Homo sapiens: one gene and its partners. The protein of the gene in region 2 purifies or fractionates together with the protein of the main gene of each other region. This does not show direct contact. Each region holds a gene or a part of one and is shown on either strand. Other genes may lie near its edges. The genes, in order: ALG6, DPEP1, UXS1 and FASTKD2.

The links.
Region 1: the proteins of DPEP1 (region 2) and ALG6 purify together in Homo sapiens (affinity purification with mass spectrometry; 2 studies listed by BioGRID and IntAct, with this or other methods). This does not show direct contact.
Region 3: the proteins of DPEP1 (region 2) and UXS1 purify together in Homo sapiens (affinity purification with mass spectrometry; 2 studies listed by BioGRID and IntAct, with this or other methods). This does not show direct contact.
Region 4: the proteins of DPEP1 (region 2) and FASTKD2 purify together in Homo sapiens (affinity purification with mass spectrometry; 2 studies listed by BioGRID and IntAct, with this or other methods). This does not show direct contact.

Annotation. Positions count from the first base shown.
Region 1 is NC_000001.11:63,362,948-63,370,646, reverse strand, and holds the start of ALG6 (dolichyl pyrophosphate Man9GlcNAc2 alpha-1,3-glucosyltransferase), read right to left. Parts: upstream 3,021-7,699; 5' UTR 2,960-3,020; intron 1-2,959.
Region 2 is NC_000016.10:89,609,266-89,616,641, forward strand, and holds the start of DPEP1 (dipeptidase 1 isoform a precursor), read left to right. Parts: upstream 1-4,376; 5' UTR 4,377-4,454; intron 4,455-7,376. UniProt on the Homo sapiens protein: Hydrolyzes a wide range of dipeptides including the conversion of leukotriene D4 to leukotriene E4. Hydrolyzes cystinyl-bis-glycine (cys-bis-gly) formed during glutathione degradation.
Region 3 is NC_000002.12:106,184,302-106,191,324, forward strand, and holds part of UXS1 (UDP-glucuronic acid decarboxylase 1), read right to left. Parts: intron 1-7,023. UniProt on the Homo sapiens protein: Catalyzes the NAD-dependent decarboxylation of UDP-glucuronic acid to UDP-xylose. Necessary for the biosynthesis of the core tetrasaccharide in glycosaminoglycan biosynthesis.
Region 4 is NC_000002.12:206,789,586-206,796,608, forward strand, and holds the end of FASTKD2 (FAST kinase domain-containing protein 2, mitochondrial), read left to right. Parts: intron 1-986; coding exon 987-1,101; intron 1,102-2,097; coding exon 2,098-2,217; 3' UTR 2,218-6,604; downstream 6,605-7,023. UniProt on the Homo sapiens protein: Plays an important role in assembly of the mitochondrial large ribosomal subunit.

The DNA of each region.
Region 1 (7,699 bases), on a different chromosome or scaffold from region 2:
ACGTGGTATTTTAAGTTCCTTATTCCCTAGTCCTTTAGTTGGGAATATACATCAAAAGGTGGATCTCCCTATTAAATGGGACTCAATACATCTAAAGATATAGTAAAGATTTACTCTCACAAGGGAATATTTCTGAGAAAAGAAAAACAACACATATGTAGATAATGACACAGTCAATTCTATTTAGAACACATTCACCTACAGGTAAATATAAAACCACAACCGTAGACAAAGGCATGATTTATCTTTGGTACAGCGAGAAAGAGGAATCTTGTCTTTGTATTTAGTTTGGGAAAGTCTTCCAATAAACAATTTATCTAGTTTGGTTTTTACTTTTCTTCCAAAATATACTTGCATTAACCACACCAACTTTCCATCTTAGAGAAATGAGCCTTTTTAAGAATCATTAAGAATAATCCCAAATCGTGAGAAAAAAATACAAAAGCAGTAAAACTCAATTAACCACTTACTTTTTTTTTTTTTTTACAGTTTTCCTTAGGTTGGGGTTTTAAAGTAAGAAGCAAATTGATGCCGGTTGCGGTGGCTCACGCCTGTAATCCCAGCACTTTGGGAAGCCGAGGTGGGCAGATCACCTGAGGTCAGGAGTTCAAGACCAGCCTGACCAACATGGTGAAACCCCATCTCTACTAAAAATACAAAATTAGCCAGGTATGGTGGCGCTCGCCTGTGATCCCAGCTATTTGGAAGGCTGAGGCAGGAGAATCGCTTCAACCCAGGAGGTGAAGGTTGCAGTGAGCCGAGATCGCACCATTGCACTCCAGCCTGGGCAACAAGAGCGAAACTCCATCTCAAACAAAAAAAAATAAAAAGCAAATCGACAAAATTGACATTTTCCTCTTCTCTTTGAAAAATGTTGGACCATTTTAACCACAGGATACACTTTAAATATATTCAGAAAATATAATAAATCAACTAAAAAATTTAGGGCAAAATTGGTACATTCCACCTAATGATCTAAAATTATTTTATTTTATTTGTTTTTTTTTCTTTTTTTTTGAGATGGAGCTTTGCTCTTGTTGCCCAGGCTGGAGTACAATGGCACAATATCGGCTCACCGCAACCTCTGCCTCCTGGGTTCAAGCGATTGTCTTCCCTCAGCCTCCCAGGTAGTTGGGATTACAGGCACCCACCACCACGCCTGGCTAATTTTTGTATTGTTAGTAGAGACGGGGTTTCACCAGATTGGCCAGGCTGATCTTGAACTCCTGACCTCAGGTGATCCACCCTCCTTGGTCTCCCAAAGTGCTGGGATTACAGGCGTGAGCCACTGCACCCGGCCCTAATTATTTTCTTATTTAAAATAAAAACATCACGGGATAACTCCAGAACTGATTGGAATGGCTAATCTTTTGTCATTGATGCCAAATCTCAAATCATCCCCTCAGAAAGATCATCCCTGACTATCCTACTAAAGCTTCCTCCCCTTACTGTTTGTATCATTACCTTCAATTTGCTTCCTAATTCTTTTCACTAACAGGATTTGTATTTTCACATGACATGGTGCAATCTCACACACATAATTTTCAGTATAAATGCTGGACACCAAAGAATACATATCATATGGTTCCATGAAAGGTTCATAAATAGGCAAAACTAATCTATGGTGTTAAAAATCAGGAAAGAGGTTACCTTTGGGGAGGAAAGAAGGGATGGTGGTTGGGAGGGGTGCCCAGAGAGGTGTTCTGAAATGCTGTGAATCTTCCTTCTTGATTTGAGTAGTGGTTAGGAAATGTGTTGACTTTAGGATAAATTAACAAGTTACAACTTATAATTTGCGTACAGTATTTTTCTATATGGTATATTCCAATTTAAAAAGCATAAAAGGGGCTGGGCGCAGTGGTTCACCCCTGTAATCCCAGCACTTTGGGAGGCCGAGGCAGGTGGATCACCTGAGGTCAGGAGTTCGAGACCAGCCTGGTCAACATGGTGAAACCCCATCTCTACTAAAAATACAAAAATTAGCTGGGCGTGGTGGTGCGTTCCTGTAATCCCAGCTACTCGTGAGGCTGAGGCAGGAAAATCGCTCGAACCCGGGAGGCAGAGGTTGCAGTGAGCCAAGATCGTGCCACTGCACTCCAGCCTGGGCGACAGAGCAAGACTCTGTCTCAATTAAAAAAAAAAAAAGTGTAAAAGGAAATTACTTGGATGTGTTGACTAAAGGCTCCCTGTGAGCAGGGATCCTCCTGTCTTAGTCGTTGCTCTCTGTTCCCCACTTGTAGAACAGTGTTAGCAGAAGGCAGGTACCCAAGAAGTATTTGCTGAATGGAGCTGTGTGCGTCTGTGTGTACGAAGCGGGGAGGTACCCTAATTTTACTGAGCCCTGTGTGGTTAAAGATATTATGCGAGGCTTTTAACGACTCTCTTCTGCTTAAACCAGAAAAAGGGTTATTTGCGACTTTTTCCACCTGTAAATCAGAAAACAGTAATTTTCTAACCCATCCACTGGCCACGAAGTTGCTAGGCAGGCAGTAGATGCGCTTTTCGTCCTCCTTTGCCCTGACGGTGCATCTCGACAAATGCCAAGCCCGCCGTCCCCATCCCAGAACCGACTTTGCTCCTTTTAGTCTGAAAGGTCCTTCCACCGCAGTGGACACAACACCGGGGAGTGCAGCTATCCCGGGCGTGTATATGGGGCGAAAGGGATCCCTTCTCGCGTTTCTCCGCCCCTCCTCTTGAGGGCCAGGCCCTCAGAACCGCAAGGACAAGGGTGCCAGGACCGCCCCAGCCTGCAAGTGCCACCACTATCACCGCGTCCCCTCACCCGACCCACAAGCGACCCTGCAGGAAGGGCTGGGGAGGCCTCGCGTCGCGTCCCTGGGAGTGGAGCGGAGCTGGGAGACGGGTCGCCAGCTCTGCGCCGGCTCGTGGCGCGTCCGAGCCCCCGGCACCTCCCCACACTGGCCTGGGGTCCGGAACCTCCGGGATCCCATGCTCTTACCCCGCCGCCCGCCGGCCGCTGGGATTCGCGCCTGCCGTGGGTCCCAGGAAGGCGCATGCGCGCTCGCCCCCGCGGCGGACTGCCCCTCCGGCCTTCCGCCTCCGTGTGCCCGCGCACCACCCGCGCGCCCGGTGCGGGAGCGAGCCCGTCGAGCGTGAGGGGAGGGGCGGGCAACCTGGCCTGGACAGGAGGCGGCCGGCTTAGGAGGCGGGGCAAGAGCCGATGGAACCCGAGAGGTCCCCAGCCCCGGGTTAGGCTAGGGGCAGGTGGAAAGCCCCTTGCTCTTCTTTCCTGGGATCGTGGCCAAGGCCGGAGCGGCTGCTTAGCCAACGGATTCCTGTCAGGGGCGGGCCCTGGCTTGCTGCACTGAGCAGAGAGCCTTGGCCGGTCCTCACCACCTCTGGGCCTGTGCCCTCGAGGAGCCAGAAAGCCAACCTGCTTCACTTTCTTCTAGCCACATGCCTGCGAAGAAGAAGACTGGGCAGCCCCCTAAAGTAAGAAACATTGAACATCCAACCATTTGCGAGAGCCTGTGCGTTGTGCAAAAGGACAGCCCTGCCCTCGAGTAGCCACTACACGTGCCCCAGCGGGCAGCTTGAATCACCTGGTCCCAAACTTGCCAAAAATACCTATCTAGTAAGTTAGTAAGACCTGCACACTTTTCCTTTTGCATTGATCCCTTCCTTTCCAGTTCCACTATTTCCATCTCAGTCTAGGCTTCTGTCCAATCACGCATGGACGGCTGTGATGATTTTTACTTGCCTTCCTTTGTTCAGAGAGTGCCCTCATTCCCCACTTCTGAATCTTGCCATTCTACGTAAGCCAACCCCTATAATTTGTAAGTGTTAGCAAATATTTGGCTAGGACTATGGCTTTCTACTGAGTCTGAATAACTTCTCTCTGGGCCTCAGTTTCTTCAACTGTGAAAGAAATCAGTAGGGCTAGGTGAACTTCCAGGTCTAAAATATGATTATATCTAAAAGACCATCAGCACTGGGAATATGGAGAAATATGGCAGGTCCCTGCCCTCAAGGCATTTAATTCTCATTGGAAAGACATTTTTATGCATAAAAGGATAAAAAGCTATAGAAGGAAACACATACTAAATGTTACATTACTTACATATGCACTAAGCACTGTAGGAGTTAGGAGAAGAGGGTTCACTGTAAACTGCAAACCATCAGGAAATGCTTTTCCTGGAGGAGTCAGCTGAGCTTTGAAGGAAAGCCTGGCTGGATAAGCCCAGAGAATGAGAGTAAGAATCTAGACAAAGGAAATGGTTCAAGCCAAATATTGTGGCAGCTGAAAAGTGTAGAACATTTCCTCTAGTTTAGGTGGTGGGTGATGAAGCTGGAAAGGACTGGTAATTGTAGAGAGCCTTGAATACCAGGCTATGGTGTCTGGAATGTATCCAGTGATCAGTAAGGGGCTATTAAATGACTTTTAGCAGGGAGTCAAGTATACAGTACAGTTACAGTGTTAGAGAAAACTTAAAGTGGTGAAAATGGATCAGATGAATCAGAGGGAGACTATAGCAGTCCACGCATGATTAGACAAGGGCTTGGACTGAGATGGCAATAGTGGAACTGCAAAGGGAGAGATCAATGCAAGAAGAAACATGTACAGGTCTTTTTTTTTTTTTTCTGAGACGCAGTTTCGCTCTTGTTCTCTTGTTGCCCAGGCTGGGGAGCAATGGCACGATCTCGGCTCACCACAACCTCCACCTCCCGGGTTCAAGCAATTCTCCTGCCTCAGCCTCCCGAGTAGCTGGGATTACAGGCATGCACCACCACACCTGGCTAATTTTGTATGTTTAGTAGACATAGGGTTTCTCTGTGTTGGTCAGGCTAGTCTCGAACTCCTGACCTCAGGTGATCTGCCTGCCTCGGCCTCCCAAAGTGCTGGGATTACAGGCGTGAGCTGCTGCACCTGGCCTCGTGTACAGGTCTTAATAGCATACTAGATATGTACAAGTGAAACAAAGGAGAGGGAAGAATCAAGGATGGCTCCCAAGGTTTCAAGTGTGCATTACAGTTCCCAAGAACTGATAGATCTTGGGAAGCCTGGAGAATAATCTGGCTTGGAGGGAAAGATGGTTCATTGTATTGAGTTCACGGTAACATAAAGACAAGAAAGTTGTAATACTCAGGTGTCAGTTATGAATCAGAGCCCAGGAAAGAAATTGGGGTGAAGATAGAGAGATGAAAGTGTTTCATTTGCTGAATAATGATGGAGACAGTATAGAGAGAAAATAAACAACCATACTTGAATAAATGCATTATCTCAGGCCAAAAGGAGAAAGGCACATTGGTGAAGGATGTTACATGGTTACAAATGTAGGGAGAAATCCATTACATTGCAGGATCATAAATATTAAGCATCTGGTGAACAAGAACCATGTTTGGCAGACCAAAAATCATACTTTATTGAATCTAAAGTTCCACCACTTGTAAAAAGCACCATTATTTTATGTACCACTGAGGAAGAAAACAATGCTACCATTTAAGCTAGTAATTACTGTAAAACATATAATTTCAGAAATATTAATATGTAAAAAGTATACATCTTAAAGTGATGGAAGTTGGTATCAATCTCTCCTTCCTGTTTCTCAACCCAACAGCTTCTGACCCAGTATTTAACAAAAAGTTAATGCTCAAAATGTTCATGAATAAATAGCGGAAGAGACATCACAGTCACTAACTCATAGCTGAATTGTCTCACCACTGCCATCTATATACCTTCTCCTGCTCTTTACCTTCAATAGGTATCATCTTTCACATGTGAATATCCAGTGCCTTTACATAACAGATGTTCAGAAAATGCATTTTGAATGATAGCATTTACTATAAGCAAAAAGGATAAGCCATAGCAAAATTGTAAAGCAGATCAAGTTTAGAGGCAGTGTAGAAAGGTGATTAAGAACTAGTCTCTGACTCTGAAAACAAACAGGTTTGGATTTAAATCTTAGTTCTTCTACTTTCTAGCTGTGTGAACTTGGTAAAGTCTCCTAATGTCTCTGGCATAATTACTTCACCTACAAAAAAAAAAGAATTAATAATAATGTCATCTTCTTTGAATTTTAATGAGAGTAAAATGAAATCATGCATATAAAACTTGAATATACTGCCTGGCATATAGTATGCAATCAATAAATAATAGCTATTATCATTTGTCTTTAACATGTGCTCACTTTTTCATAGCCTTTCTTTGAAGTGTCTTCTTCCTCCTACCATATAGCAGCCCATACATATATATATTTGCATCCCCACCAGAAGCCTACTGTTCTTATCTGAAAATTTTCTCTGAAACCACGACCAGACACAGTATCTCACAGCTGTAATCCCAGCACTTTGGGAGGCTGAGGCAGGCAGATCCTTTGAGCCCAGGAGTTGAAGACCAGACTGAGCAACATGGCGAAACCCTGTCTCTACAAAAAGTATATAAAAATTAGCCAGGTGTGGTGGTGTGCTTATGTAGTCCCAGCTACTCAGGAGGTTGAGATGGGAGGATCACTTGAGCCCAGGGAGGTTGAGGCTGCAGTGAACCATGATTGCACCAATGCACTCTAGCCTGAGTGACAGAGCACAACCCTGTCTCAAAAAAATAAAAAAAAATTATCTGAAATCAAATTACACTAATGTATAATCCATCTTAAAAGTTGTTGGCTGGGCGCAATGGCTCACGTCTGTAATCCCAGCACTTTGGGAGGCCAAGGCGGGTGGATCACGAGGTCAGGAGATCGAGACCATCCCGGTTAACACAGTGAAACCCCGTCTGTACTAAAAATACAAAAAAAAAATTAGCCGGGCATGGTGGTGGGCGCCTGTAGTCCCAACTACTCGGGAGGCTGAGGCAGGAGAATGGCGTGAACCCGGGAGGAGGAGCTTGCAGTGAACCGAGATCGCGCCACTGCACTCCAGCCTGGGCAACACAGCAAGACTCCGTCTCAAAAAAAAAAAAAAAAGTTGTTGTTGCCCAGGCCCGCTGGCTCACGGCTGCAATCCCAGCACTTTGGGAGGCCGAGGCAGGCACATCACAAGGTCAGGAGATACGGTGAAACCCCATCGCTTCTAAAAATACAAAAAAAATTAGCCGGGCGTGGTGGTGGGTGCCTGTAGTCTCAGCTACTCGAGAGGCTGAGGCAGGAGAATGGTGTGAACCCGGGAGGCGGAGCTTGCAGTGAGCCGAGATCGCACCACTGCACTCCAGCCTGGGCGACAGAGCGAGACTCCATTGGGAAAAAAAAAGAAAAAAAAAGTTGGTGCATTTTAAAGGCAGATGGGAAAGAATATGAAATGAATACTATTAATCTCTAAAGTCAGTTTGACTAATAGGTGATGGCTTCAATTATCTACTGCTGTGTAACAAATTACTCCAAAATTTAGCGGCTTATATAGCAATGATTTTATTTGCTCATGTTTCTATGGATCAAGAATCTAGGCAGGGTTCAGGTAGGTGGTTCATCTGTTCCACTGGGATTGTCTGAGGTCACTCATGAGGCTGCATTCAGCTGGGAGATCAGCTCAGGCTGAAACATCCGTGAACAGCTTCAGCCCTCTCTCCACAGGGCTTCTCTCTTCAGAAAGTTTCGCAAACTTTTTACACGGCAGCTCACTTCCCAGAGAGAGCATTCCAAGCGGCAAAGGCAAAAGTTGCAGATCTCTTACACCCCAGCCTTACAAGTCACACAGCAACCTAGCCATGATACAAGGAGAGTGGAAATAGATTCTGCCTCTCAGT
Region 2 (7,376 bases):
GAACTCCTAAACTCATGTAATCAACCCATGTAATCCGCCTCGGCCTCCCAAAGTGCTGGATTACAGGCGTGAGCCACCTGCCCAGCCATGTTTATTTTATTAGTTTATAAATTTATTTAAAACAGAGATGCAGCCGGGCGCAGTGACTCATGCCTGTAATCCCAGCACTTTGGGAGGCCGAGGCGGGCGGATCACTTGAGGTCAAGAGTTTAAGACCGGCCTGGCTGGCCGGGCGCAGTGGCTCACTCCTGTAGTCCCAGCTACTCGGGAGGCTGAGGCGAGAGAATGGTGTGAACCCGGCAGGCGGAGCTTGCAGTGAGCTGAGATGGCGCCACTGCACTCCAGCCTGGGCGACAGAGTGAGACTCCGTCTTAAAAAAACAAAAAAACAAAAAAAACCACAGCCTGGCCAATATGGTGAAACCCCGTGTCTACTAAAAATACAAAAATTAGCCAGGTTTGGTGGCTCATGCCTATTATCCCAGCTACTCGGGAGGCTCAGGCAGAGAACGGCTTGAACCCAGGAGGTGGAGGTTGCAGTGAGCCGACATCACACCACTGCACTCCAGGCTGGGTGACAGGGCGAGACTCTGTTTAAAAAGCAAAACAAAACAAAACACAAATGGGAACGTGCTGGGCTTACAGACGTGAGCCACTGTGTCCAACCCATGGTTTTTTTTAACCATTATCCTCCAGATGGGCCCTGGAGGTTCACACTCTTTCCCTCTTATACATGTGTTGGTTTATTGTCTTATGTTATCACCTTTATTTACCTTTGAAATCTTTATTGTCACTTTGGTTAAACAGATAACGAAATATTGTTTCACGATGACATATGATCCTATTTTATTTAAGTTTTCAGATCTTTTGACATCTTTGCCAACTTCCCAAAATCAGAATCAAATTCTAAATTAAATCTTCTTGACCTCAAACGGACTTTGAAGTTTTCTAGAAGGTCCCTGGAAAATCTCAAAACTCAAATCCTTTGAAACTGTCAAATCTTTGAAACTGACAGTTTCAAAGGATTTGTTCTACCACCTTGTTAAAAGGGAGATGTTAAACTAATTCAGTTTATTTGATATATTCAATTACATGGGAAGCATTGTCAAAAGACACTTAACTTTCCATACATTATATTTATATAGTTAAAATGTTGCTATTTCAGAAATTATATAAATGTCCTAAAAATTTGTCAATGCCCTTGTTATCCGATCTGTTCGCCTCTGTTACTGTTCATGATTTCAGTTGTTATTTAATACGTCGTGTGTCACAAAAACAACCAGAATTCATTGTGTGTTGTTTTTATAATGAACTCTCATCAGATCTTTCATTATTTTCAGGTTCTTTTTTTTTTTTTTTTTTTGAGATGGAGACTCGCTCTGTCGCCCAGGCTGGAGTGCAGAGGCACGATCTCGGCTCACTGCAACCTTCACCTCCTGGGTTCAAGCGATTCTCCTGCCTCAGCCTCCCGAGTAGCTGGGACTACAGGCGCCCGTCACCACGCCCGGCTATTTTTTGTATTTTTAGTAGAGACAGGGTTTCACCATGTTGGCCAGGCTGGTCTTGAACTGCTGACCTTAGGTGATCCACCCGCCTCGGCCTCCCAAAGTGCTGGTATTACAGGCGTGAGCCACCGTGCCTGGCCCATAATTTTTTTTATTTTTATGTATTTGTTTATTTTGAGACAGAGACTCACTCTGTTGCCAAGGCTGGAGGGCAGTGGCACGATCTCAGCTCACTGCAACCTACACCTCCTGGGTTCAAACACTTCTCCTGCCTCAGCTTCCTAAGTAGATGGGACTGCAGGCGCATGTCACCACGTCTGGCTAAATTTTGCATTTTTAGTAGAGATGGGGTTTCACCACGTTGCCCAGGCTGGTTTCAAACTCCCGACTTCAAGTGATCCGCCCACCTCGGCCTCCCAAAGTGCTGGGATCACAGGCATGAGCCACCGTGCCTGGATAACTGTACTTATATTTTTATAGAAGCTTTATTGAGACAATTCACACACCATAAAATCCATCCCTTTAGTGTGCACAATTGAATGTTTTTAGAATATTCAGAGTCGCACAGCCATCACTACTATTTAATTCCAGATTTTTAATTTAAAAATTTTCATTGCCCTCGCAGGGCACAGGGGCTCACGCCTGTAATCCCAGCACTTTGGTGTTGTAACCAAGCGAGTTATAGAGAAACACCACACTTTGAGACAAATTAAGGAGTCCTTTATTAGCCTGCGACCGAGAGGCCGCTAATGCTCAAAATTCTCTCGGCCCTGAGGAAGGGGCTAGCTTTGTTTGTATACCGTGGTCTAAATGGGGGGGGGGAGTTTAACTGAAGCAATTTTTATAGAAGCAGAACTGGCAAAAAGTTAAAAAATTAATTGGTTACAAATGCAGTTACAAAAAATAAACAGCTCCAGGTGCAGGGGCTTAAACTATCACAAAGAGATAAATGCAGGGGCTTCGGGTGCCATCCACCGAGCGCGTCCCGAGGAGCTGCTGGTGCAGCTTGCCTCAGTATCTTATCAGTAGGTGCATTCCCAGACGTGCTTTGAGTCAGTCACACTAGTTAAGCCTTAAGGGAGGGAGGTGAAGGGGGCTGCAGGTGAAGAAACTAAAATGGAGTCTGTCCGGCGCTCTCTCTGCTACGAGAAGGTCACTTAGGTTAAAACAAGGTTGGGTATCACACTGGGAGGCCGAGGCGGGCGGATCACGAGGTCAGGAGATCGAGACCATCCTGGCTAACACGGTGAAACCCCGTCTCTACTAAAAAAGAAATACAAAAAATTAGCCGGGCGTGGTGGCGGGCGCCTGTAGTCCCAGCTACTCGGGAGGCTGAGGCAGGAGAATGGCGTGAAGCCAGGAGGTGGAGGTTGCAGCGAGCTGAGATCGCGCCACTGCACTCCAGCCTGGGCGACAGAGCAAGACTCTGTCTCAAAAAAAAAAAAAAAAAAGTCATTGCCCCAAATAGAAACCCATTCCCATTAGCACCCACTCCCCACTTTCCTTCACAGCCTCAACAACCATGAATCCACCTTCTGTGTCTATGGAGTCACTTATTCTGGACATTTCATATAAGTGGAATCACACGACATGTGGTCTTTTGAGTCTAGCTTCTTTCTTTCTTTTCTGAGACAGGCTCCCACTCTGCGGCCCAGGCTGAAGTGCAATGGCGTGATCGCAGCTCACTGTAACCTCAGTCTCCCAGGCTCAGGCGCTCCTCCTGCCTCAGCCTCACAGCAGAGACCACAGGTGCGCACCACCACACCCGACTATCTGGCTTCTGCCACTTAGCGAAATGTTTCTGAGGTTCTTCATGTTATAGCACGTGTCAGCACGTCACTCTTCTTCATGGCTGAGTAATACTCCACTGCGTGAAGAGACACATTTATCTGTCCCCGTGTTGGGCATCTGCACTCTTCCCACATTTTGGCTATACTAAATTGTCCTGCTACGAACACCTGTGTAGTTTCTGTGTAAAGGTACAGTACCTATATGTTGGGGTGATCAGACCCAACCCCAGGTCGTGGGGGTGACAAAGTCCGGCGGAGTCAAAGGATTCAGAAAAACACAGAGAGAGAAAGGTGGCACACCAGGGGGCCATCGCTATTGTGGAGGCTGCAAAAGCCCGAGCTCTGGGAGCCCACGGTATTTATTGGTAATGCAACAAAGAAACAGATGGTGAGAATATGGAGGTCAAAAGACCACGTTGCATTAAGCACATGATTACAGCTGTGCCGGTTTAGCATTTATATGGAGCATGTTCTGCTACTTGAGATAATGGGAATAGGGGCCTAGGAGGGCTAGAAGGAAGGAGCCAGCAAGTCTAGACACATTCCAAAGGACATCATGCAAGCCCTGCCTCAGTTTCCCTCCCAACACCTATATGTCTTGTTGGTATACATGTTGTATTTTCACAACGAAAATGCATGAGAAAAAGGACACAGATGGCTTATGTGTACTGATGTGTAGCATTCTCTAAGATCTGACATCACAGAGCTGGACAGCACAGCTGTGCACGCACCCCCCTGGCTGGGAGGTGGCACATCCACACATGAGGGAAAAACACTGCCAGGACATCTCAGGGCACTCTCAGGAAATGAGGAAGCTGCTGGAGAAGTTTCTAGCCTTGGGGGAGGTCAGGACGCAGAGCCATCTCCTGGAGCAAAGTTCCCTCCTCCTCTCTCCCTCCTCCTCTCTCCCTCCTGCAGCCCTTCCTTCCGACCCCTGGCCCTTTCTCTCCAACCTTCCCCTCCCCTCCTCCATTTCCCTCCTCTTTCTACTTTCAGAGAACACAGGGTTCCTGCAGGAAATGGGGCAGTTTCACCTTCCTGAGGAGGGGCCTGGGAGGGGCAGCAGGTGGCCGGGTAGGGCCAGCCCAGCTGTGAGCCTGGCGTGGGAGCTGCCTAGGCCGGGCCCTGCCAGGGAGCAAGTCTGCATCGCAGAGGCCAGGGTGAGTGGGCTGGGGAGTCGGTGCGCCAGGGTACTGGGGTGCCCACCTGGGGTGGTGCAGGCCCGGGGACCCCAGGGCACCACTGTGGGTGGAAGCTGGGACCAGGCGTGCGGGGCAGGGGACGCGGCGGCTTCCTGGGATTCTAGGAGGCTGAGGCCAGGTGTGTGCGGCAGGGGACGGGGCGGCTTCCTGGGATTCTAGGAGGCTGGGACCAGGTGTGTGGGGCAGGGGACGAGGCAGCTTCCTGGGATTCTAGGAGGCTGGCACCAGGTGTGTGGGGCAGGGGACGCGGCTGCTTCCTGGGATTCTAGGAAACTGGGGCCAGGTGTGTGGGGCAGGGGACGCGGCTGCTTCCTGGGATTCTAGGAAACTGGGGCCAGGTGTGTGGGGCAGGGGACGCGGCGGCTTCCTGGGACTCAAGGAGGTGGGAGAGCTGCTCTCAGACCCGCCGCTGTCCTCCCACTGGCCCTCCCCGTGGTCCCTAGGATGAGGTCTGGACCCGCCAGGCCCTCCAGAGGCCCCACAACCCCGCTTGTCCACTGTGCCGGCTGTTCCTTCCTTGTGGCGCCCAGTGCGGTCCTAGGCACCCTTGGGACTCAGCTCACGTACCCCTTCCTCCAGGAAGAGTTCTCAGAGGCTGTGTGAGGAGCGCCGAGTCCCCGGACTTACTCTCTGTTCTGGAATTCTCTGCGCAGTCATCTGCCTTCCCGCCCAGCTAAGAGCAGGGCCTGTTGTCCGGCCCCACAATTTCCTTCCAGGTGGAAAGGATTTGCTGAATGAAAATCAAAGCTGTGGCCGGGCGCGGTGGCTCACGCCTGTAATCCCCACACTGTGGGAGGCCGAGGTGGGCAGATCATGAGGTCAGGAGATCGAGACCATCCTGGCTAACACGGTGAAACCCCGTCTCTAATAAAAAATACAAAAAATTAGCCGGGCGTGGTGGCGGGCGCCTGTAGTCCCAGCTACTCGGGAGGCTGAAGCAGGAGAATGGCGTGAACCCGGGAGGCGGAGGTTGCGGTGAGCTGAGATCGTGCCACTGCACTCCAGCCTGAGTGACAGAGCGAGACTCCGTATCCAAAAAAATAAAAGAAAAATCTTCTCCCCGGGTAGGGTGCGGGGAGCTTCAGGGTTATCACAGGACATGCTAGAGAGAAAGCCTTGGGCACAGGCGGAAGTTGGAGTCTGGAGCTGCGGCTGGGCTAGCGAAGGGCAGAACCTACTTCGGCCAATGGCTCTTACACAGCCAAGCTATTTTCATGGTGAGGGTCTAGTAGCCTCCACATCTCTTGGCGAATTCTTGCTGATTGGCGTCTGACCCCATGGAGAAGCTCAGTGGGTGTCATGGGTGGAAGGGGGCATCTAGGGCCTCCAAACGTGGAAGTGTCTCTAAAATACCTCCCGCTGGGCCTCAGTCTCCTTGTCGACAAAAGGTCAGCTTTGACAAATCTCCAGTCGGAGGCCAGGAGCAGACGGGGAGGGTCCCTCAGTCCCTGCTTGCAGCTTCAGGGGGACGTAGGCTGCGGTGGACGGACACTGAGCCCCAAAGCGGCCTCTCAGAGCCGCCCCTGAGGGGTGGCCTCACAGGTCGGGCTGAGGCTCCCAGCTCCCACTGGGTACAGAGCGGGCAGGCGGGCCTGGCAGGGCAGTGGTGCTGGTCTACACGCAGCTCTGGAGTCTCTGGACCTGTGTCCTGTGCGTACATCCTGGCTCCATCTCCCATGAGCCAGGGGGCTGGACCTGTCTTCTCTACCTCAGTTTCCAAGAGTAGGAGACAGGGGTAACAGCAGCCTTGCTCTCAGGGGTGAGGGCGTGGGTTAAAGGGCAGGACACCCATGGAAGCAGTGGTGGCTCCGAGCACCTGCTCAGCCTTCCCAGGTCTTCAGAGCCCACAGGCAGAGCCCACCCTGAGGGAGGAGCAGCTGGTTCTTGGGTGAAGTGAGCCCCCAGGACCCCGCCTTGCAGGACCCCGCGAGGCCCCGGTGAACTGGAGCCGGGAACCGGCCCCACGGAGGCACGTTGGGATTTGGCCACCAGAGGGCAGGAGCTGCAGCAGCCAGGCAGGCGGTCAACACGGGGGCCCCGGGGTCCTGGCCGGCTGGTGGGGTGTGAATTGGAGAGGAGTGGGCTGTGTGGAGGGAGACCAAGCACCAAGGCCCGCCCTGGCCTCTGAGTGTCCACCCCTTTCACAGGCCCATTTCACAGATACTGAGGCCCAAAGGCGCAGGGCTCAGGCGTCCCCTACGTGTCGTGTCCCCAGGCAGGAGAATTACTTGAACCTGGGAGGCAGAGGTTTCAGTGAGCTGAGATCACACCACTGCACTCCAGCCTGGGTGACAGAGCAAGACTTCATCTCAAAAAAAAAACACAAAAAGTGAATTTAAAATGCTCCCTGAACTCCAGCTGGGGTGCGCAGCAGGAGGCTGGGTCCGTGGGGCTTCGGGGGCTGGGCTGGGGGTTCAGGTGGGTGGGGGAGTCAGTGCTGTGGGGATAGGGCTCAGAGCCCAGAAACAGACAAGCCCACACAGGTAGCCAGTGTCGACGAAACAGGAGAGGCTGGGACCTGTGCCCTGGAAGGACACAGCCAGCGGGTCCTGGGTCACCCACTCCGGGGCTGACCGGGCACAGTTTCACAGAGCAGTATGGCCCAGCCAGCTGTGAGAGGATCGGACAGACGGGCGGAAAGGAGGGGAGACAGCGGGTGTGCTCGGGGCTGTGCCGGGAGGGGTCCTTGGATGGAGGAGGGGGTCGCCAGGAGGCATCTGCATCCCCGGGGTGGTGAAGACCCAGCGTGTATGGCCGACCTCGAGGACAGGGCGATTGCTCCACCAGAATGTTCCCAGATGGCACAGATGCTTCTGGTTCTGGCACTGGGACCTGCAGCAGGATTCCCGGGTGGCTTAAAGAGGTTCCTTGAAGTTTGTG
Region 3 (7,023 bases), on a different chromosome or scaffold from region 2:
AAGCAAGACAAGAAATTTGCAGTAGACATTAATGTGGGTTCAGTACACATGAAGAATCTGGTAACTGGCCTCACCTATTCAACATATCTATTTGTGAAAGCTCTCCAACTTCACATCAGACATGTTCTTGACTTCTCAGCTGTCTTAGTCCATGTTCAGGCTGCTATCACAAATATACTACACAGTGGGTGGCTAATAAACAGGAATTTGTTTCTCACAGTTATGAAGGTTGGGAAGTGCAAGATCAAGACACTGGCGGTGAGGGCTCACTTCCTATTCACAGACGGTGCCTTCTTGCTGTATCCTCACATGGTGGAAGGGAGGAATGAACTCCCTTGGGCCTCTGTTACAAAGACACTATCCCATGCATGAGGGCTCTGCCTCCTGACCTAATCACCTCCCAAATACCCCACCTCTTAATGCCATCACTTCAAGGATTAGGTTCCAACATGTGAATTCCAGGGGACACAAACATTCAGATCACAGCACTGGCCTGTACAGAAGTACCATACATATCATATACCAGGACTAGAATCCAGTCACATATCTACAAAAGGTAGGCAGCTCAGGAGACATGCACACCACAAAGCACATTTCAGGCCACACGGGCCAACCCCAAAATGCAAAACTGATTATACTTTGCCCTGCCCTAATGTCTGAACACTTCAGGCATGTTCATCAAAATCTCTCTCATGCTGCACAAATTCTTATGGAGGGCTTACTCATGTCATTAAATCAAGTTTATGTCAGGTCAGACTTCCACATTCTGCCTTTATGGGCCACAAAGACTCCTGCTCCTGGCATTGTGTCACTCCAGCCTCTGCTCATTCCATCACTTTCACCTTCAACTCCACTGCCCAAATTGTATCCTTCTGCTAAATGCCAACTCAATGCCCCAGGTCTTAAGGGCATCCCATTCTCTCCAAGTCCCAGATCTCATTTCTCTCATGGTACTCAGCACTTTACCTTGACTACTTTACCTTGTCCATTTTCTTAGGAACTATGGTGGAAAATGGGAAAATTGTTGAAAATAAAGATGCCCAAGTCTTAAACCCTGTTTCTACCTACAGAACACTTCTGATACCACGTGTGTGTGCTTTTCCCATACTACCAACCAATTCTCCCACTCTCTAGACACCAAGCAAGTGGCCAATGATTCCATTCAATTCTGGCTCCTTGGAGAGAAGGCTGATTCCAGGTTTGGGGTAGAAAAAGAAAATGAGCCTGAAACATCTAGACATTAAGGAAGTGCTCAAAGACTAAAAGAAGCTACGGGTCCACAGTGATTAAAGAAAGATCACCATGAGTTTAACGGTGCCCCCTAAAATATGTCCACATTCCAATTCCTAGAATTTGTGATTGTTATCTTACTTGGAAAAAAGGTCTTTTTAGCTGTAATTAAAGATCTCAAGACAAAAAGATCATCCCGGATTATCCAGTTGGGCTCTAAATCTAGTGACAAATGTTCTTATAAGAAACACCCAGGAGAGATTTAGCAGACAGAAAAGGAGGAGGCCATGTCACCGCAGAGGCTGGAGCAGTGCAGGCAAAAGACAAGAAACCCTGGAGCCACAGAGGAGCATTCCGAGGGAGCTCAGCCCTGCCAACACCTTGGTTTCAGACTTCTGGCCACCAGATTTAGAAATAATAAATATCTCTTGTTTCAAAGGCACCTAATTTGGAGTAATTTGTTACAGCAGCCACGGGAAACTAATACAGTGAGAGAAGAAAAAGGGAGGGAAAGTTCTTTTCAAAACACCACCAGTTAATAACTATCAAAAGATTTACAAAATTAGAAAATCACTAACTGCAATCCCCAACAGAAAAATCGGTCCAGGCAAGGATCGTCAATGGACATGAAATGCACTGGCTGGAGAACAAGATATTCGCACAGGTGGCAAGAATCACTCCACAGATTGCATACTGCAAAAATGTACCTTCAAAATGAAGCAGCATAGAGGCCATTCCTTCCAGGGGTCACACTGAACAGTGTCAAGTGGGACCAGCCCAGACACTACATGTTCCCAACGACACCAATTAGCAAGCATTGTTATAAAAATGTTTAACTGAACTTAATCATAAGGAAACAATCAGACAAATCCAGAATGTGGGACATTTATAGGAAAACTGCTCTGGGCTTTTATATATATATATATACACACACACACACACACATATACATGAATATACGTAAATATGTATATACACACACACACATATATAGGTAAATGTTATGAGAAACAATCAAACAAACAAAAAAAAATCAGGCTACTATGGCTCCAGAAATTTAGAGGCATAAAACCAAATGCAACATGTAAATCTTGACTGGGTCCTAGATTTTAAACTAAACAAAAAAAAATTTTTTAATTAGCTGGCTGTGGTGGCACACACCTGTAGTCCCAGCTACTCAGGAGCCTGAGGCAGGAGGATCACCTGAGTCCAGGATTTTGAGGCTGCAGTGAACTAAGATCATGCCACTGCATTCCAGCATGGACAACAGATTGAAACCCTGTCTCAAAAAAACAGAAGCAAAAAAAAAATCTCAGAAAGGCTATCACAGTCATTTATGGTACAATGGGGGGAAATTTAAATATAGACTATATCTTAGATATTATTTTGTTAATTTTTAGGGAGTGATAATGGTAATGAGATTATATAGAAGAATACCTTTATTCTTAGGAGATATATGTAAAGTACTTGAAGGTGAAGTACTGTTACGTCTGCACCTTTCAAATATTTCAACAAAAAAAGTATATATAAAATATATACAAAAAAAGTAAGAAAAAGAAAAATGTGGAAAAAAATGTAGGCATCTGGTGAATCTGGGCAGAGAGTATTTGGGTGTTCACTAAAATATTCTTTTAGTAGAAAAGATAGAAAATCTGAAAGGAAATTTTGAAAATGTTGAAAATTCACAATTTCCAGCTTGTGCCTCCAACCCTCAGGCTCCTACAGGCCTAGGAGGATCCTAGGAACCTGCATTTGACAAGCCCAAGCTGATCTCACGCTCGGGTCAGCCTGGGAATGCCACCGGTACTAGGTTGTTGGATTTTAGCTGTCTGCTGTCCCCCAGGGTCCTCTGGCGTCACAGTGATATCTAACTTGCTGCACATCCTCCAAGGCAGAGGCTAACAATTGTGTCCCGAATGAATTTATGAGGGCAATTGCCGATCATGTGGGAGCTGATTATATTAAGGGCAAAACTGTACCGTAACCAAAGTCCCAACCTCAGGGAAGTTTGAAGTCTATTACCATAAACACAAAACTAAGACACATAAAACACTCTTTCATATGGTTTTCAGGTTTTATCTCTTTTCTTGTTAAGTAACACTGACAGGAAAGAAAGGTACCACAACTAAAATGTCACTACAACAAAATCCACAATACACCAAAAATTACATAAATGTTACTAGATGTCACAATGTCACAACTGTAATTTCCTTTTTTTTTTTTTTTTGAGATGGAGTTTCGCTTTTGTTGCCCAGGCTGGAGTGCAATGGCACGATCTTGGCCCACTGCAATTTCCGCCTCCGGGTTCACGAGATTCTCCTGCCTCAGCCTCCTGAGTTGCTGGGATTACAGGCGCCCGCCACCATGCCCAGCTAATTTTTTGTATTTTTACTAGAGACGGGGTTTCACCATGTTGGCCAGGCTGGTCTCAAACTCCCGATCTCAGGTGATCCACCTGCCTTGGCCTCCCAAAATGCTGGGATTACAGGCATGAGCCACCGCGACCAGCCTTAACTCTAACTTTCAAAGGCTAAAGGTGAAAAGATAATGGCTCCTAAACCCGACTAAAACATCAGAAAATGTCTTTTGTCTTTGATTTCTTTTCTTTTTTTGAATATAGGCAATCTATTTTCCTCCCTGCCCCTCTCTCCATATCCCTCCTCCCTGACTTCTTTTTTGTTCTTGTTTAAGGAATCAATCCACGTGGACAGGGAGAAGGGGAAGGGAGAACAGGCACCAAAATGCTACTGGATAGGAAAAAGAAGATAGGTGAATATGGGGACATGGAGAGGGCACGGACGTGGGCGGGCAGTGGAATGGCCCATTTATACTTAGGGTCAAGAACTGGGCCAGGCCTGGAGCATCTGCAATGGGTGTGGAGGCAGCAGAGACAGGAAGTCTGATTTTCAAAGACATCTAAGAAGCAGGACAAGTTCCAGCTCCTGTCCCACCCTGGCAGAAGACAGGTGGCTCCATCTCTGGAGAGGGTGGAATCAGGGTCTCTGACAGAGGAGCCCAGATCCCCCTGGGACAATCAGGTTACTGATTAGGCTACAGCCCTCGCTCACTGGGCTCCAGGATGCAGGCAGCCAAGCCTCCCCTTCCTGCAGGGACCAGGGAGAGTCTTGTGACAATAGCCCGGGAGGACCAACCCGCAGCACTAAGGTCAGAAGGCCCCAACAAGGAAAGGTTCAGCTCACAGAAGGCAGTGCCCATCCCTACAGAGTCCCCCACTCTTAAACATGGGCAGGCCATCTGAGGAGAGCCTCACACAGAAACGGGAAGGCAGCCTAGAGGAAAGAGATCCTTCAGTAAAGAGAAAAGAAAACAAATTTTTTAAAAATCCAGAGAATATACCATGAAATGAAGACCATGTTTTAGTTTTTTAAAAAAGTTCACAGAACAAAAAAGAACTCTTATACATGAAAAAGTATGGCAAAAATAAAATGTAAAAAAATCACTAGAAGAGTCTAAATACAAAAATGAGGAGACGTCCCAAAAGTGCAACAACCTTAAAATGGTAGAAAATAGGAAATAAGAGGATTGGTCCAGCAATCCTATATCAGAATAGTAGTAGTCCCAGAAAGAGATGAAATAGAAAATGGGAGGGGAGAAAATCACCAAAGAATAATTCAAGAAAATTCCCATAACTGAAGAATAAGTGTTTCTGGATTGCCAGGGCACAAAAAATGCCCAACATGCTGGATAAAATACACCAAGGCCTAGCACTGTGGATCTTGGAACACCACGGATGTATCAGTCAGGGCAGGCATTGTTAAACTACAGCAATGAGCAGCCCAAAAGCCCTCAGAGGCCTACAACAACCAAGATTTATTCTTCAAGTTTATTTCAATCGAACAGGGTCATAGCATGGGTGGGAGGGGGTTCTGCAAGCTGAGTATCATCATTGTCAAGCTGAGTTCAGAACCTAACTAGAGGGAAGGAAAACTCTGGCAGCAACTTACACTCGCAGCGAAGTGCAGGCCCAGAAGTGGAAGTAGCACTTCCGCTCAGCTCCTGGGCAGGCCACTGGCACAACAACCATGTGAGGCCATCAAGCTCAGGGAGTGAGGAAGGGAGGGCAATCCTACCAAGAGCCTGGGGGACAGGGGGCTGGACATGTGTGGCGAGCACTGACAACTAGACCCGAAAGGAAGATGCTACAATCTTCAGAAAGAGAAGGACTGGCTTGAAATTCTTCAACAATACTGGAGGCCAAAAAGGATTGGACCAATGCTTCAAAAATTCTAAAGGAACTTTTTTTCTATAATTCTACACTATCAATCTATCAGACATGAAGGCAGAAAATATACTTATGGGTAAAGTCTCAGAATTCACTTCCCATCACATCCAAACCAGGGAGTGAAACAAGAGGGAGTCAGGAAGAGGAAGTCAGGAAACAGAAGTCCTGCAGTGGGTAGGTCCAGGCTGATGTGGGTGCAGGTGGTGAGGCTGGCAGCTGACCCTCAGATGTATCCACAAGTTGCAGTAGAAGGCCCCGGGGCCCTTCTTCAGGAAGGGGTGCTGACCAAGGGGCATCCTGATGCTCATGAACATCATGGGGGAAGACGCGACAGACAACTGGCAAAGAGTTTGGAGTTGGATCTGTCATACTACATAGAAAGCAAGCAAATTAGAACACCAGCCAATTATTCGCTGGAGAAAACAAAAAGTAACCTACAACATGACTCACTAGGAACAGCATTTACATAGTCATGCTTGTAAACACTGCATGATGAGCTCCGTGAGATTATACCACATCTATATAGGAGGGTGGAGAGCATGTACAGGGGCAAAGAGAAGAAAAAAATCATCTCCCAAAGAACAAAGTCACTAGGTAATATCTACAACTGAAAAATCAGGAAGCCAGGTGATTCAATGGCACAATGATAAATACCAAAATAATCAACTAAAAGAAGTGAAATGCCTAGGGGTTGGGTGCGGTGGCTCACGCCTGCAATCCTAGCACTTTGGGAGGCTGAGGTAGGCAGATCACCTGAGGTCAGGAGTTTGAGACCAGCCTGACCAACATGGAGAAACCGTCTCTACTAAAAATACAAAATTAGCCGGGCGTGGTGGCGCATGCCTGTAATCCCAGCTACTCAGGAGGCTGAGGCAGGAGAATCGCTTGAACCCAAGAGGCCAAGGTTGCAGTGAGCCGAAATCACGCCACTGCACTCCAGCCTGGGCAACAAAAGCGAAACTCTGTATCAAAAAAAAAAAAAAAAGAAATGAAGTGCCTGCTTCTGGGGAGAGGGAAATGGTGGCAGGGGATACTGTTTGGCCCTGCAGAAGCTATTTAACTTTTTACACTATATGCATGTTAAAAAAAAATACGTTAAAGGTAATTCAAGCAGTCTGCCCAGGAGCTACCTAGTAGGTTGGCCTGATTTTTGATTCAGCACAAAGGGCAGAAACTGAGTTCTTTCAATGAGCCATTAGCACTGCTATAAATGTTTCAAGGGCTGAAACACATAAGACACAATCCCTGTCCTCAGAATCGGGATTTCATTGAGAAAAAAAAGCCAACATATGAATGGGAAAGAACTCAAGTACAATGCAAGTTAGCAGGTGGTCAACCCTAAGACATGAAGAAGAGTTATGTGGTATCAAGGAGGAGACTCAGGGCCAGAGTAGGTAACAAAGACTTTGGGAAAGATGTAAGGAGGAGAAGGAGAAAGGCTAACAGAACTTGAGTTCTGTTCCCGAAACAGGGAGGGCATTTCTGCAACGGAGGCTGGCTAACAGTGAGGGTGTATATAATTGGGAAGTATGGACAGTTTTTTCAAACAG
Region 4 (7,023 bases), on a different chromosome or scaffold from region 2:
ACTGGACACACACACACACATAAATATGATAGAAACATACAAAAAAATCTGTAGGGATCCAAGCTCTTATCTGCCCATCCCTCTTCATTCACACACAGTTCTGTGACTTTCACCTCTTTCTGAATGCATCTAGCTTATTTCTTGGCCATCTTTTCAACCGCTGTCTTTCCTATTAGTGCTACCCATCTCCCCTCAGAAGAGGCTTTCTCTCTGACCTCATTCCAAGATCAGTTTTCTTTTTCGGGTACTCCGCTATTCTGGCATAATAAAATAACAGTTGTTCTCAGCATAAAGTCATGAGAAGTGAAGAATGTGAGCATTCCTTTAAAAACATAAAATTTGTCTTATAACAGCCAGAGTATAGGTGAAGGCAGTAAGGATATAAATGTCTTTTTTTTTTCTTTTTTTCTCCCAGTAAACTTAGTATTTCCAAAGTGCCAGGAACAATGAAAAAACAAATTACACCTTCCACATTTTCGTTATATTTACAGATTTTATTTTAACAGTCTTGCCTTTCTCTTGGTGTTTTCTTTCTTGTATTTAAACTCCTATTTCTGTTTTTTAAATGCTGCTTTCTCTGGGAGATGATATGTGTAAGAAGAGCATTTACTATTTGGTATTATTTACACCGTTACTACTACTGGTAGAATAAATAATTATACTCAGATCAGAAATCAGCACTACACAGAAAACCCTTAAAATTGGTGCTTTCATGTCTGAAAATTTTCCTCTTCAAAAATGTAGCCATCCTTAAAGGGAACTGAGAGGTAACTGTGTATAATGTTGTATATTTTTGATTTATAAAGTAGCCTTGTATAGTGGAATATCTGCAGAGGCCAAGTAAAAGAAGTGAAGGACTAAGACAGGAATATCAAGGATTGTGGTCGGTGGAGAGCTCAACTTGGAAATCTCCAGAGAACAAGAATGCAGCAAGACTAAATAGTAATATCAATAACTGTTCTTGTTTTGTTTATTTTTGTTTTCAGAGTAGCTGTGCTATGTGTTTCCAGATCTGCTTATTGTTTGGGTTCAAGCCACCCCAGAGGATTCCTTGCTATGAAAATGCGGCATTTGAATGCAATGGGTTTTCATGTGATCTTGGTGAGAAAAAAATGCAAATGAAATATTCTTTAATTACTGATGTACATTCTAACAGCTGCCAGGAATCTTGTGGTTGAGACTGGTTACTAGGACTAGAGGAATTGTCAGCATTATTGGAATGAGTGCTTTAGTTACTGTTTTCTTTGAAAAAGAACATTGCTAGTACACGATTTGGGTTCTGCTCAGCTGATTACTGTCATTACTAGAGCTTTTACAAATGTTGTTCTGGTCAGCTTTAATCCTTTTTTGCTAAGAAGAAGAATGCAAATAATATATTTTCATATTTAAGATACACAAAACCATATTTAATTTCCAGGTTATCTTGAACAAGGGAAGGAAAGATGTTAAAGCTTTGTTTTCATGGCCTGTGTGAAGCTGTTACAGGATGTTTGTTGCCAGAAAAGGCTGGATGGTTTTAAGAAGATGGGTCTTTCTCTTCCCTCTTATGCTTCAATTTTATTTTGTACCCCACAGCTTCTCTTGAACAGCCTCTTCTGATGTTTCTAGGTAGTAGGAACCTTACAAATACATTTATATATATGTTGCTGTTGGAATCTATCTAAATGCCACTCATTTGGTCCTGCGCATAATGTAAGATGTAAACATTCCAAGTCTTCTATTATTATACTTTAGTATTGGAAATGGATTACGTGTGGACTATTGAGATTAAGATGACTCCTTTCTCTTAGTGGGCTACTATTTAAGACTTTGTTTTTTATATTGCTGATTATATATATTCTAAGGAAGATTTTCTCAAGAAAGCAGTTTTTGCACCATTTAGAGGACCTTTAAAATTTGTATAATTTTCACAGTTAAAGCTTTCTTAAACCCTAGCATGTAGTCTTATTATGCCTTTAAAATATGAGTAGTTATAAGGTCACATTTGCTTTCAAAAAGCTATTGTCCTCATGTTACTTTACTATGTTTGGATCTCTAAACTAGCTCTTTTGTTAGTATCGTCTCACAAACTGATTATTTTCCTCTTTCTTTGGTAAGGTCAATAACTGGGAGATGGACAAACTAGAGATGGAAGATGCAGTCACATTTTTGAAGACTAAAATCTATTCAGTAGAAGCTCTTCCTGTTGCTGCTGTAAATGTGCAAAGCACACAATAAAGTGAAAATCAACCTTTTCATATTAGGAGACATGCATTTGTAAAAATTAATAAAGATGACAAGTCAGTTGTCAATGGAATTGAGCTATCTGCTAAGACAAAAAATGTTACCTCAGTTCACTATTAAAATTAATTTTAGGAGTGGAAGAAATGTTGTTACTGCCATTTAAAAATATGCTGAGAAAATTCCAGAAGGGTTATTTTTCCAACCACACCTATTCCCTCTAGTGCCCAGATATTTGATTTGTGAGCTGTACGTTTCACCTTTTCATCTTTGATCTACTAAAAACTGGTTTCTTAGTTGTGAGGTGTCACAGGCAGGTTGATGTGGGTAGTAGTCCTTGTCTTTGGAATCTGAATATTTATACTCCTGCTCTAAGCTGTTCTAAGACTTGGGGTTATGCCTTTAAATCATTTTCAAGCATTGGCCAAATAATAATTGGACAAAGTTCTAAAGTTGTCAAGTGTGTAAGAATTAGTGAGGTAGCTGTTGAAAATGAGTGAGGATGGTATTTGTATTTGTAATAAGCACTGCAGGTAGAGATATTTCATGGGTTATAATAAGAGAAACACAGATGAGATGTAGATGGTAAGGAGTCTTACTGTTGTTGGGGTCCTTCCTTTCTCTTTCTTTTTTCCCCCTTACCCCTCCCACAATTTCATGAAGTCTTTTAAATTAAATATATAGCTGAATTGTGTTGTGAATCAGACCTGAGGACTATTTTTTCGATTATGTGTGTTCATTCTTTGTTCAAATATTTGTCCAAATTCAACTATTTTGTTCAATATGCCTGTCTACCTAGTATTTGGCTCGCTGGGGATATAGTGATGAATAGGCATGGTCTCTTGTGGAACTTACAGCATGGGTTCCATGCAAGTTGGTGTTATTCTGCCCCCAAGCACACAGACATGCAATTACTAGACATCTTAGTATGTGCCGGGCACTGCTAAGTATTCATTTGTGTGCTGCCTTTTCATGATCTGAACCCTTTGAGGTGTAGCTGCTATTATGATTCTCTCTGTGTCTTCACTTCCTCATCTCTAAAATCAGGATAGGTATTTGCCCAAGGCTACACAGAGTAGGGGAGGGCTGGAGTTTGAATGTGAGCTAACATAGGCTTATAAGAAAATACAAAAACTGGGCTGGGCACGGTGGCTCGTGCTTGTCATCCCAGCACTTGGGAGGCCGAGGTGGGCTGATCATGAGGTCAGGAGGTCAAGACAATCCTGGCCAACACGGTGAAACCCCATCTCTACTAAAATACAAAAAATTAGCCGGGCATGGTGGTGCATGCCTATAATCCCAGCTACTGGGGAGGCTGAGGCAGGGGAATCGCTTGAACCCGGGAGGTGGAGATTGCAGTGAGCCAAGATGGTCCTGCTGCACTCCAGCCTGACCACAGAGCGAGACTCTGTCTCAAAAAAAAAAAAAAAAAAAAAAAAAAAAAAATACAAAAACTATAGCAATATGACAACAGCTGCCAGGTTGTATCAATTTATCCAGCTTGCATTTAGAAAAGGTTAGAGCTGAAAGGAAATTTAGTGATTATTTAATTGTTACTTCCCTCATTTTATGGACGAGGAAGATAAGGCTCAAAGAATTTTCCTTTCCTGAAGTCTCAGCTATGCCATTGGTTCCACATCATTTCATCCTCACCTGCTCTTCAGCTTGTGTCCCAGGAGATCAGGCTTCTGGTTCCAGATTGGACAACCTCTAGTTTTGTATACTTGGCCAAGTGATTTAACCTTATAAGCTTCAGAACAAGATGCAGATATTCTGTTATTAAAGGAACTAAGGTTTTGTCTTTAAATGTTGAGTGTGCATCAGTTTTGAGTGTCTAATTATGACTCCTCTTCAAAGGATTTGACAAATTTGTGAATATTTATGACCACCTTTTAGGGTAGTAATTTTCAGTTTGTACTAGTTAACCTGGCAGATAAAAAGGCATCCCTCTTTTACTAGCATTCTAGTGTTAGCATTCTTCATTGCTTTGTGTCAATGAAAGAAAAATGGGCAAAGAGCTGATGAACATGAAAAAAGTTCAGTCTACTTGTAAAGACATGCACATTGAAACAGAAGAGATGGTTTTGCCTTTCAAATTAGCAGTTTTTTTTCTTTTAAGAATTACAGTGCTGATGAAGGTATAATGAGGCAAGCACTTGCATAAGCTGTTGGTAGACTGTAAATTAATACCTTTCTGGAATGTACTTTGTGGGGTTTTCTTCTCCCATAATTTAAAAAATAGCTTTATTATAGTATAATTGACATACAGTAAACTGCATATATTTAAAGTGTACCGTTAGGTCAGTTTTGACGTACATACACACACACACACATCTGTGAAACCACAATCAAGATAATGAATATATCTATCACCTCTAAAAGGTTCCTGTCTTTGCTTTTTTCTCTGTCCCCTAAACAACCACTGATCTATGGCACACATAGAAAAAAATTAGGAAATATATTAAATGCTCATTTTGTGTGAGATATCCAAATATTTTTTTCAGAATCCCTAATGAAAAGGTTGATCTTGCTCTAGATACAAGATATAAAATTGTATTCTTGAAATAGCTACATGCAATTCTTTTTTATTATTTTTTAATTTTAATTTTTAGATTTTTAAAGATGGGGCCCTGCTATGTTACCCAGGCTAGCTTCAAACTCCTGGGCTCAAGGGATCCTCCTGCCTCAGCTTCTCAAGTAGATAGGACTGATTATAGGTACAGGCTACTGTGCCCAGCTCAATTCTTGATTGAGACATTTACCAGCTCTCCGAATTCTCAGTAGTTACCACTGAATAGAAACTTTCTTTACACAAAGCTGATTAAACAGTTTAGAACTTTTAAAAAACATTCAAAAATTGAAAATTTCATATATACATAGCCTAACAACTCTTCTTGTCATTGACAAAATGTGATGGTATTTTTTTTGTGATAATACACATGGACCTCAAATGCAATTGAACTATTCATATCAAGTATTTCCAAATAACAATGACATTCCAATTTATAGAATGTCATGTGTTGTGAGGGTAGTCACCCTGCAACTGGCTTGGACATCTCTAAGCAAATAGAAGTTTCTGTAAGATAGAGATTTGGGGCATCTACTTGGAACTACCTATGAGGAGCTGGCATTCCTCAAATCCCAACTGACTGCACTTTTCCATGAAATTACCCAGCAGTTATGATGGTCAGTGGCTCACTCAGCAGCAAGCCACTTAGGTAGCTGGCGAGGGACGTGGCACAGCCTTGTCTTCACACAGCACATCACAGCCAGGCAGCAAAGGACAGATCTCTCTCATACTCTTCATTCACAGGGCCTGAGAGGTGGACCATCAGACTCCACCCTGTTTTGCGCTGACTTGTAGGGAGACCTAGGTGTGGAGCTTCCTGGCCAGGAGGGCAGTGGCTGCCCAGAAGGCAGGAGATGGCTATCTCTTTTTTTTTCCTGAGACGGAGTCGTGGTCTGTCGCCCAGGCTGGAGTGCTGTGGCGTGATCTCAGCTCACTGCAAGCTCCGCCTCCTGGGTTCAAGCCATTCTCCTGCCTCAGCCTCCCGAGTAGCTGGGACTACAGGTGCCCACCTCCATGCCCGGCTAATTTTTGTATTTTTAGCAGAAACAGGGTTTCACCATGTTAGCCAGGATGGTCTCGATCTCCTGACCTTGCGATCTGCCCGCCTTTGGCCTTCCAAAGTGCTGGGATTATAGGCGTGAGCCACCACCCCCGGTCCAAGATGGCTATCTCTTAACACACTTGTAACCCATTTGTGCACACAGGTGTGCCGTGACTCACTGGTGGATCCAAAAAAAGCTGAAGCCTACATTTCCCAGAGCCCCTTTCAGCTTGAATTCCAAATGTGACTTAGCTTCCTCTATGCAGATGTACCTACTTGAAACTGGGAAGGCCAAATGAGATAGAGGTAATGTTTCTGCCAACAAACAGCCACAGAGCATTTTATTTTTCTAGAAGAGCAATAACAGAGACCCCAGGGTGTGGTGTGGCAGGACGAGGAGCATCCATTTTGCTGGTGGGGATTGTGGCTAAAATAATGTGGCTCTGGAGCCAGCAATGGGCAGCATCTTCATGACTTTCCAGCTTCCAGGCTGTAAGCAGAGATAGCATCTCTTCTGGACAGCCAGTTATGTGATAGTGTTCTGAGAGTCATTCCTGGAAGTCAGACTAAAGGCTGCTCCTTCAGCCTTTCCATTCATCTTGTAAGCAGGAGGCTTCTGTGCATGGCCAGAAACTAACAAAAGCACATTGTGTCTAAACTAGGTTGCAGTGGTTTCTGTTATCAGCAAGTAAATCCTGATTGATAAAGATACTACAATATATGCACATATATATGTTATAGAATCAATAAAAATTGGATACTTTGCTTTAAAAGTTTGTGAATTTTGCTTTTAAAGAATTTCCCTCAGGGCCGGGCACAGTGGCTCACACCTGTAATCCCAGCACTTTGGGAAGCCAAGGCAGAAGGATCGTTTGAGCCCAGGAGTTTGAGACCAGCCTGGCAACATGGCAAAACCCCACCTGTACAAAAAATAGAAAAATTAACTGGGTGTGGTGGCATGCACCTGTGGTCCCAACTACTCAGAAAGCTGGGGTGGGAGGATCGCCTGAGCCTAGGAGGTCGAAGCTGCAGTGGGCCAAGATTGTGCCACCGCACTCCAACCTGGATATCAGAGTGAAACCATGTCTCAAAAAAGAAAAAAGAATTTAAAAAGAATTTCACTCAGGGTTACAGACACTTAATGTTATTAAGACCCACTAGGAACACCTGTGTATACTGCTGGCTGGTTTTA